Linked DNA regions of Homo sapiens. The protein of the gene in region 2 interacts with the protein of the main gene of each other region in a biochemical or structural test. Each region holds a gene or a part of one and is shown on either strand. Other genes may lie near its edges.

Region 1 (3,600 bases), 510 kb from region 2:
GGCAGACAACCTGGAAACTGTGTTAGAATAGATCCTCAAATAAGAAACATTCAGTTAAAATGATGGGCTGCCTCTTGACACTGTGAATGTTTTGCTGCGTTCAGACATCAAAGGAAAACTGTCATGAACATCAGGTAAAGGCAGCAGAAAAGGAAGCACAGTTTGGTGTTTGTTTCATTACACAGCTCCCAAAGGGGACAATCGAATACTAAGCGGCAAAAAAGTTGTGGGAGACGGCCTCTCTCCAACCGGAATGTCCAAAGACACCTGAGTGCCGAAAATTCCCCCATACTCAACGTCTGAATTCTCCCCTCTGCCCTCTCCTCTTCGTCGGAAGAAAATCCGCTAACAATCCCATGCCTGACCAAGTGGGAAAAGCTTTCAACTTCACTCTACTTCGTCCAACCCTCGGGATAACGCACTCCCAGATCCCGACCTCCCCTTGAACCTGCCCTCTGAGATCTTCTAGTTTCTCCCGAGGGTCCCTCAGAAAACCCAGCCCGTTCCTCCCCACTGCCCCTTAACCCCTTCCCCTGCCCCAGGCCCCGTCCGCGCCCCAGCGCAGACCATCACCCGCCGCCTCCCCGACCCCCTTCCCGGAGCCCTCAACGCTGGCCTGCCCCTCGGGGCCTCCTCCTCGCAACCCCACGCGATGTTCCTCCCGCCCGCGGCCCCCTCCCCCTCCCCGCGCCTCACCACTCTCCCTCAGCAGCGCTCCCGCGAGCAAGGCCGCGCCCCCCAGGCGCTCGCCCTCGGGGGTCCCTGGCGGAGGGGCCCCTAGGCCCACCACGCCCCCGCGGATAAAGGGTGACGCAGCGGACCCCGCCCCTGCCCCGCGGGCCCGGCCGCCTCGCTCACCCACACGAAGAGGCTGTCTGAGAGCAGGTACTGGGCCACATCGCGGGCCCGGGGTCCCCCGGCGCTCGGCCGGGCGGGCGCCGGCGGCTCAGGCTGCAGCGAGGCCGTTAGCTGGTCCGGCTCGCCGGGGCCGGCCTCGGGCTGGCTGAGCGCGCGGTAGGCGCTGATGATGGTGCCCAGCAGGGCCAGGCCGCTGAGGCCCGTGTAGGTGCGGAGGCTGGGCCAGGGGAAGCGCTCGAGGAAGAGCAGCGGCATGGCGGCAGCGGCGACCTCTGGCCCCCAGGCTTCCCTGCGCTGCGGCCGGGCCTCTGCGGCGGCCTCGCGAACGGCGCCCACGGGCTCTGGCGTCGCTGCCGCTGCCGCTGCCGCCGCCGCCGCCGCGCCGGGCCGGGCCGGGCCGCTCCTGGCTGCTGGCGCCGCTCCGCCCCGCGCTGCTCCCGCTGCTGCCCCTGCCGGCGCGGAAGAGCCTGGGCGGGCTCGGGACAGGCCGCCGCCCCCAGCGGGACGCTGGCGGGACGGGCGCAGGGGCGCGGCCTTCGTCCCCCGCCCCCAGCGGTCGCGCCGCCGCCTAGCGGGCGTAGCCCCGGGCCTCAGGCCGGGGGGCGGGCACCCAGCATCATCCGCCGTCCGCACCACGGCTTGGCTGGGCCCGCAGACACAGAGGGCACCTGCTCCGGCCGCGGCGCAGGGGTCACTCGGGCTCGCAGGCGCTGGCAGGCGGGCAGGGCCTCAGGGCGCGGGGCACCCTGGCCACCAGGCCGTCGGCCACTTGCCCCCCCCCCACCCCATTAACCCTCTGAAGAGGTTACCCCCAGCACTCCTAGGGGCCGCGCAGCTTCCCTGGTGCCCGAAACCCCAGAAGAAAGAATATTAACAGTCTTTCAAGTTTCTGCTGTTTGCTAGTAGCCTCCAGCAGAAACTAAAAAATGAACCTGATTTAGCGGGAAATAAAAATGTGTTCCCTCATACCCCAGAAGTGAGAATGTCAAATGGTGCAGCTGTCTTGGAAAATAACCTGTCCTTTCCTTAAAGTCAAACAAGAGTGACCATTTGACCCAGTAATTCCACTCCTCTAAGAAAAGTGGAAACATACCTCCACACAAAACTTGTACACAAATGTTGATTACATTCTAACAATCAAAAGATGGGAACAACGCTAATGTCCGTCAAGCGATGAGTGGATAAATGTGATACATCCATAAAATGTACTATTCGGCCATAAAAATGAACTACTGATACATGCTACAATAGGAACGAACCTTAAACACGTGCTAAGTCAAAGAAGACAGCCACAAAGGTCCACGTGTTGTGTGATTCCATTGATATGAAATGTCCACAATAGGCAAGTACATATACAGACACAGAAAGTTGATTAATGATTGCTTAGGGATGGGAGGAAGAGGGGAGTAGGGGGTGATAAAGGGTGCAGGTTTCTTTTAAGAGACAGGGTCTGTGGCCCAGGCTAGAGTACAGTGGCATGCTCACTGCATCCTCCATCTCCTGGACTCAAGAAATCTTCCTGCTTCAGTCTCTCCAGTAGCTGGGATTACAGGCGTATGCCACCACACCTGGCTAATTTTTAATTTTTGGTAGAGACAGCGTCTTGCTATGTTGTCCAGACCAGTCTGTGGCTCCTGAGCTCAAGTGATCCTCCCACCTTGCCTTCACAAAGTGCAGGGATTACAGGCGTGAGTCACTGGCTGGGATAGGTTTGTTTTCAAAGTAATGAAAATGTAAAATTGAGGTGATGATTGCCCAACTCTGAATTGAAAAATCATTGTACACTTTAAATAGTTCTATCTCAATATGCGAATTGTATCTCAATAAGCTGTTACCAAAGGAAAAAAATGTTACCTTGGGAGTTTTATTCCTTTTGCATCCCCAGGGCCTGTAAGAGTTCTCAGCCCAGAGTAGGTGCTCTGTAAATATTTGTAGGATTTTCCAAACTTTCTAAAGAAAAGGACCAAATTATCTTTCAAGGTCTTTTTCATGCCTAATATTCTAAAAGTCTATTAACTAGAAAACAAAAGATCTCTCAAGCTTACAATTCCACTTTGGAAATTTTAGAAACATCTTGTTAAAGGGTCTTTGATGAACGTTTGGCTTTACCGGGACAGGGAGAGGCCTTACCTTTGCACACGTGCATTTTTTTAATACAAGGTCTATATGAATACTAGACTTGAATTCACTTTGGTTCTCTTCCCACAGCCATGCAATTAAAATGCTAAACTTTAAACTTTATCAGTAAAATAAAGGAAAGCTTTATTTTGAAAAACTATTGTAATTTTCCAGGGAAGTGTTCTACTTTACAGGTCAAGATCTGAGCCACCATAACTTTTAAACCACTGACTGGCAATCTTTATTCAATCCTAGCCACAGTAGTTCTAAACTGTCACAAACCAAATTTGTCCCATCACCCTTAGAAACAGGCTGCTGTTAACAGATCTGCCCTTATTAAACTTTTAGAAGCTTGAACCTTCTGAAACTTCACATGAATGGGGGAAGTTAACCCAAAAGAACGTAAATCGTTTGTGTTTGGATCTTTTACTAGAATTAGTAATTTTTCTACCATTACTTTTTCCTTTCCCACTCCAAGACACACTCCAAGAAGGTACTTTGCACACCGTTGTTCTCAAGGAAGGACATTTTGGCAATAACCAAACAAGCCTTCTTAACCAATACTTCTAGTTCTTGGTAACTGCATCTTACTCCATGAGAGGACTGGGAAGGAGGCAGGACCCA
Region 2 (3,600 bases):
CGGAGTCTCGCTCTGTTGCCCAGGCTGGAGTGCGATGGCACAATCTCGGCTCACTGCAACCTCCACCTCCCGGGTTCAAGCAACTTTCCTGCCTCAGCCTCCTGAGTAGCTGGGATTACAGGCACGTGCCACCATGCCCGGCTAATTTTTGTATTTTTTAGGAGAGACGGGGTTTCACCATGTTGGTCATGCTGGTCTGGAACTCCTGACCTTGTGATCCACCTGCCTCGGCCTCCCAGAATGTTGGGATTACAGGCGTGAGCCACCTCGCCCAGCCTCAAACATACTTTTAAGGCCACCAGATGCAGCTGTACAACTGAAGTACATACACTTGCCATTGTAAAGCCTGCCACCAGATGCAGCTTGTCACTTGCCACTCACTGATAGTGTTTTGATATGAGTCTGCAAGCAATTGATTTATGATGGCCTCTGTGCAGTGAAACCTCTCTGCTAATGTTAATCCGTATTTGCAGCCACTCTCAGCACTAGCATCAGCAACTCAGCTCCACCTCCCATCATCAGGCATTCGATTCTCGTAAGGAGCACAGCCTAGTTCCCTTGCGTGCACAGTTCACAATAGGGTTCGGCTCCTGTGAGGATCTAATGCCCCCTGATCTAACAGGAGGCTGAGCTCAGGTGGTAATGCAGCGATAGGGAGCAGCTGTAAATACAGATGAAGCTTCGCTGGTGGCTCACCTCCTGCGGTGCCGCCTGGTTCCTAATAGGCCAGGGACTCATAGTGGTCCGTGGCCCAGGGGGGTTGGGGACCCCGTCTTAAGCCATCCAGTTTGTGGCACTTTGTTATGGCAGCTGCAGCAGATGAATATACCCACCAACCAGACCAGGCTCCTCCTGTTACCTTCCTGACCTTGACAAGCTCCTGACAACACCTGAAAAAACAGATGTCCCAAGGGGGTTGGAACAAGGAGGGAGCCGGGGCAATGTCAGTTTTGTTTTTCAAGCCTTTTTTTTTTTTTTTTTTTTTCCTACAGAGGAGGAGGAGGGAACGCCTACAATAAAGAGGCCTTTATGGTCCCACTTCAGGAATCGGAGAACCCCGCCCTCCTCGTCTCAGCCCCAATTTAACGGGTGCATGTGTGAGTATCTTATAAAGTGACGCGTTTTGAGGGGGACTCCAGTGTGAGCAGGACTGTGGCTGACTTGTCAATCATCATTAGGGTGATGTCCCAAACGTTCAAGTCTGAGGCCCAGGGAAATTGGCAACAGCTGCCTGGATGCCTCCATCCTCCCAGCCCAAGGAAAATCTGGCCTTGCTCCTTCGTTGTCTTTCTTAGGAGCACGTGGAGTTCTCCTAGGTGGGCTTGCACTCGGGGTCGCCCAGCCGTTCTTTGAGGGTTCGAGTGGGTAGGCTTCCCCTGTAGGACGGGCTTCCCCGTAGGTTTCCACGTGGGGCCACAGAGGCAGGAAAAGGGGAAGTGGGCACTGACACCTGGGGTGAAAAAGGGTGGGGGTGCGGCTTTGTGAGGAAAGAATTTGCAGAGACTGCTAAACTGGGGTCTGCTAGGATACCCCACTCCCCACCCCCTGCCTCGGGCGCCCTCAGCCACCCGAGCTGGGGGCCTCGCAGGTCTCAGACCAAGCTCCCCGCGCGGCCTGCAGCGCACCCAAACATGGCCACCGAACCCGGGTTCCCGGGGCACAGCCGCGCCTCTGGGTGACGCAGACGCGGCGGGTTGCATCAGCCCGTGCCCACGTGCTCGGTCCGCCCTCTGCCACCCGGATCCGGACGCCGATTGGGCCACGTTGGGAGAGTGCCTCCGCCTCAGCCAATGGGCGGCAGCCACAGAGCGTTCTGTCCGCAGAGCCGGGCGCGGGGCTTCTATAAAAGGCGCCCGAAGCGGGGGCGCGCGCCCCAGAGACGTGAACTGTCGTTGCAGAGATTGCGGGCGGCTGAGACGCCGCCTGCCTGGCACCTAGGAGCGCAGCGGAGCCCCGACACCGCCGCCGCCGCCATGGAGTCCGAGACCGAACCCGAGCCCGTCACGCTCCTGGTGAAGAGCCCCAACCAGCGCCACCGCGACTTGGAGCTGAGTGGCGACCGCGGCTGGAGTGTGGGCCACCTCAAGGCCCACCTGAGCCGCGTCTACCCCGAGCGTCCGGTGAGAGCGGCCCCGACTTCCCGCCCCTAGGCTGTGGCCCCCCGCCCTCTGCTGGGGATGCCACGTCCGGCTGCCCTGTCCTGTGGCCTCCTCCCGCTGACGGCTGCGATCGCTCGGCCGGTCACCTCCCCCAGGGCTGTGGTCTCCCCTTCCCTGCCCCGCCGACGCGGGCGCCCCTCTGTTGCCCAGTAGCCGTCAGTAATCAGCAGCCTGACCTTGGGCGAGTCATTTCACCCTCCAAGCCTGTTTCTCCCCCAGCGGCCAGGCAACTCGGTGTTCCTAATTGGGCTTGCATCCAATGGCTAGAAGTAAGAAAACATCCGTGCTGCAAAATGAGGTTTCTGAACGCAGCCTCTCTGCAGGGAGAGGAGCGGGCAGGTGCCACCCGGGGCCGTGGCTTGAGAAACCTGGGGACCGCCCAGACACTGTGGACGGAAGGCCCCACACCCAGAAGCAGGACGTGGCTCTTCTCCTCCCTGGCCACCTTCCGCCGTGCCCCTCCCTGTCGCACTGGACCGAGCAGCCATTGCCGAGTCCCGGGGTGGAGCCCCGTGCACTTTCTGACCAAGAGCGACTGAGAAGGGAAGCAGGCAGGAGTCGCCTTCAGTCTGGTTTTAGGACGGCAGCCTCTCCATTATTAGCAAGACTTCCTTGCTTTGTTTTGGTTGACACATCTGTCAACATCACCCTTAGCACCGCCTGCCCTGGCCACCACGTGATGAGGCTGTAAGCTGGCCCTTCCTGTATTTACTTTCTGCTCTGATATTATGTAAGTGTCAGCAGTGTTCTTCACTGCCCACGAGCATAATTCTTCATCACACAGGAGAGGGCATCCGGGCAGGAAAAGATAGTGAAGTCGTGAGTTCCAGCTTGTGGTAGCGCCTGTGTCTGTTTTTGTTTCATATGGTCAAGAATGTTTTAGAAGTGAGTTTTCCTTCTGAGTTGTTATTTTGAAATTTGCATATTTATTTAGTAAGCTTGCATTCCATGTCCTCTAGAATTCACCCTGGCACATTTTTCAGTTTCACCATAGCTGCTTCCAAGAAACTGGGTGGCTGTGTTGCCATGAGAATGACTATTGGGTACACAAATTGGTGAAGCAGGTGTAGCCTATGGTTGCATCATATGGCAAAAGGCAGGATTTTGGCGGAGGATTTTTAAGGTCTTCCTTTGATGAGGAATGCCGCTCCCATCTGTTCAGTCTGAAGACCTAACATTGTAAACAAATACCTCTCAGGTATACAAATTTGTGTCTAAAAATTATTATGGCTGAAACATACTTATCATTTGTTTTCTGTAGTAGAAAATGGCATAATATGAGAAGGCCTACTTTGTAATAGTTGTTTGCTTTACTTAATATTTTTCAAATCAGCCATCTGTGTGAAGACTCAATATCAAGTTAGGCCTTTAAAAGGGGGAAAATAATTCAAAACCACTGGCAGCTGTGGTTTTCCGGCCTTTTCTATTGGTTGAACTCTGT

Evidence for each region.
Region 1: of the proteins of HERPUD1 (region 2) and AMFR, one has a biochemical effect on the other in vitro, tested with the Homo sapiens proteins (6 studies listed by BioGRID and IntAct, with this or other methods).

The regions. Positions count from the first base shown.
Region 1 is NC_000016.10:56,424,215-56,427,814, forward strand, and holds the start of AMFR (E3 ubiquitin-protein ligase AMFR), read right to left. Parts: upstream 1,332-3,600; 5' UTR 1,114-1,331; coding exon 859-1,113; intron 776-858; exon of another isoform or gene 697-775; intron 521-696; exon of another isoform or gene 1-520. UniProt on the Homo sapiens protein: E3 ubiquitin-protein ligase that mediates the polyubiquitination of lysine and cysteine residues on target proteins, such as CD3D, CYP3A4, CFTR, INSIG1, SOAT2/ACAT2 and APOB for proteasomal degradation.
Region 2 is NC_000016.10:56,930,272-56,933,871, forward strand, and holds the start of HERPUD1 (homocysteine-responsive endoplasmic reticulum-resident ubiquitin-like domain member 1 protein), read left to right. Parts: upstream 1-1,870; 5' UTR 1,871-1,973; coding exon 1,974-2,120; exon of another isoform or gene 2,121-3,023; coding exon of another isoform or gene 3,024-3,044; intron 3,045-3,600. UniProt on the Homo sapiens protein: Component of the endoplasmic reticulum quality control (ERQC) system also called ER-associated degradation (ERAD) involved in ubiquitin-dependent degradation of misfolded endoplasmic reticulum proteins.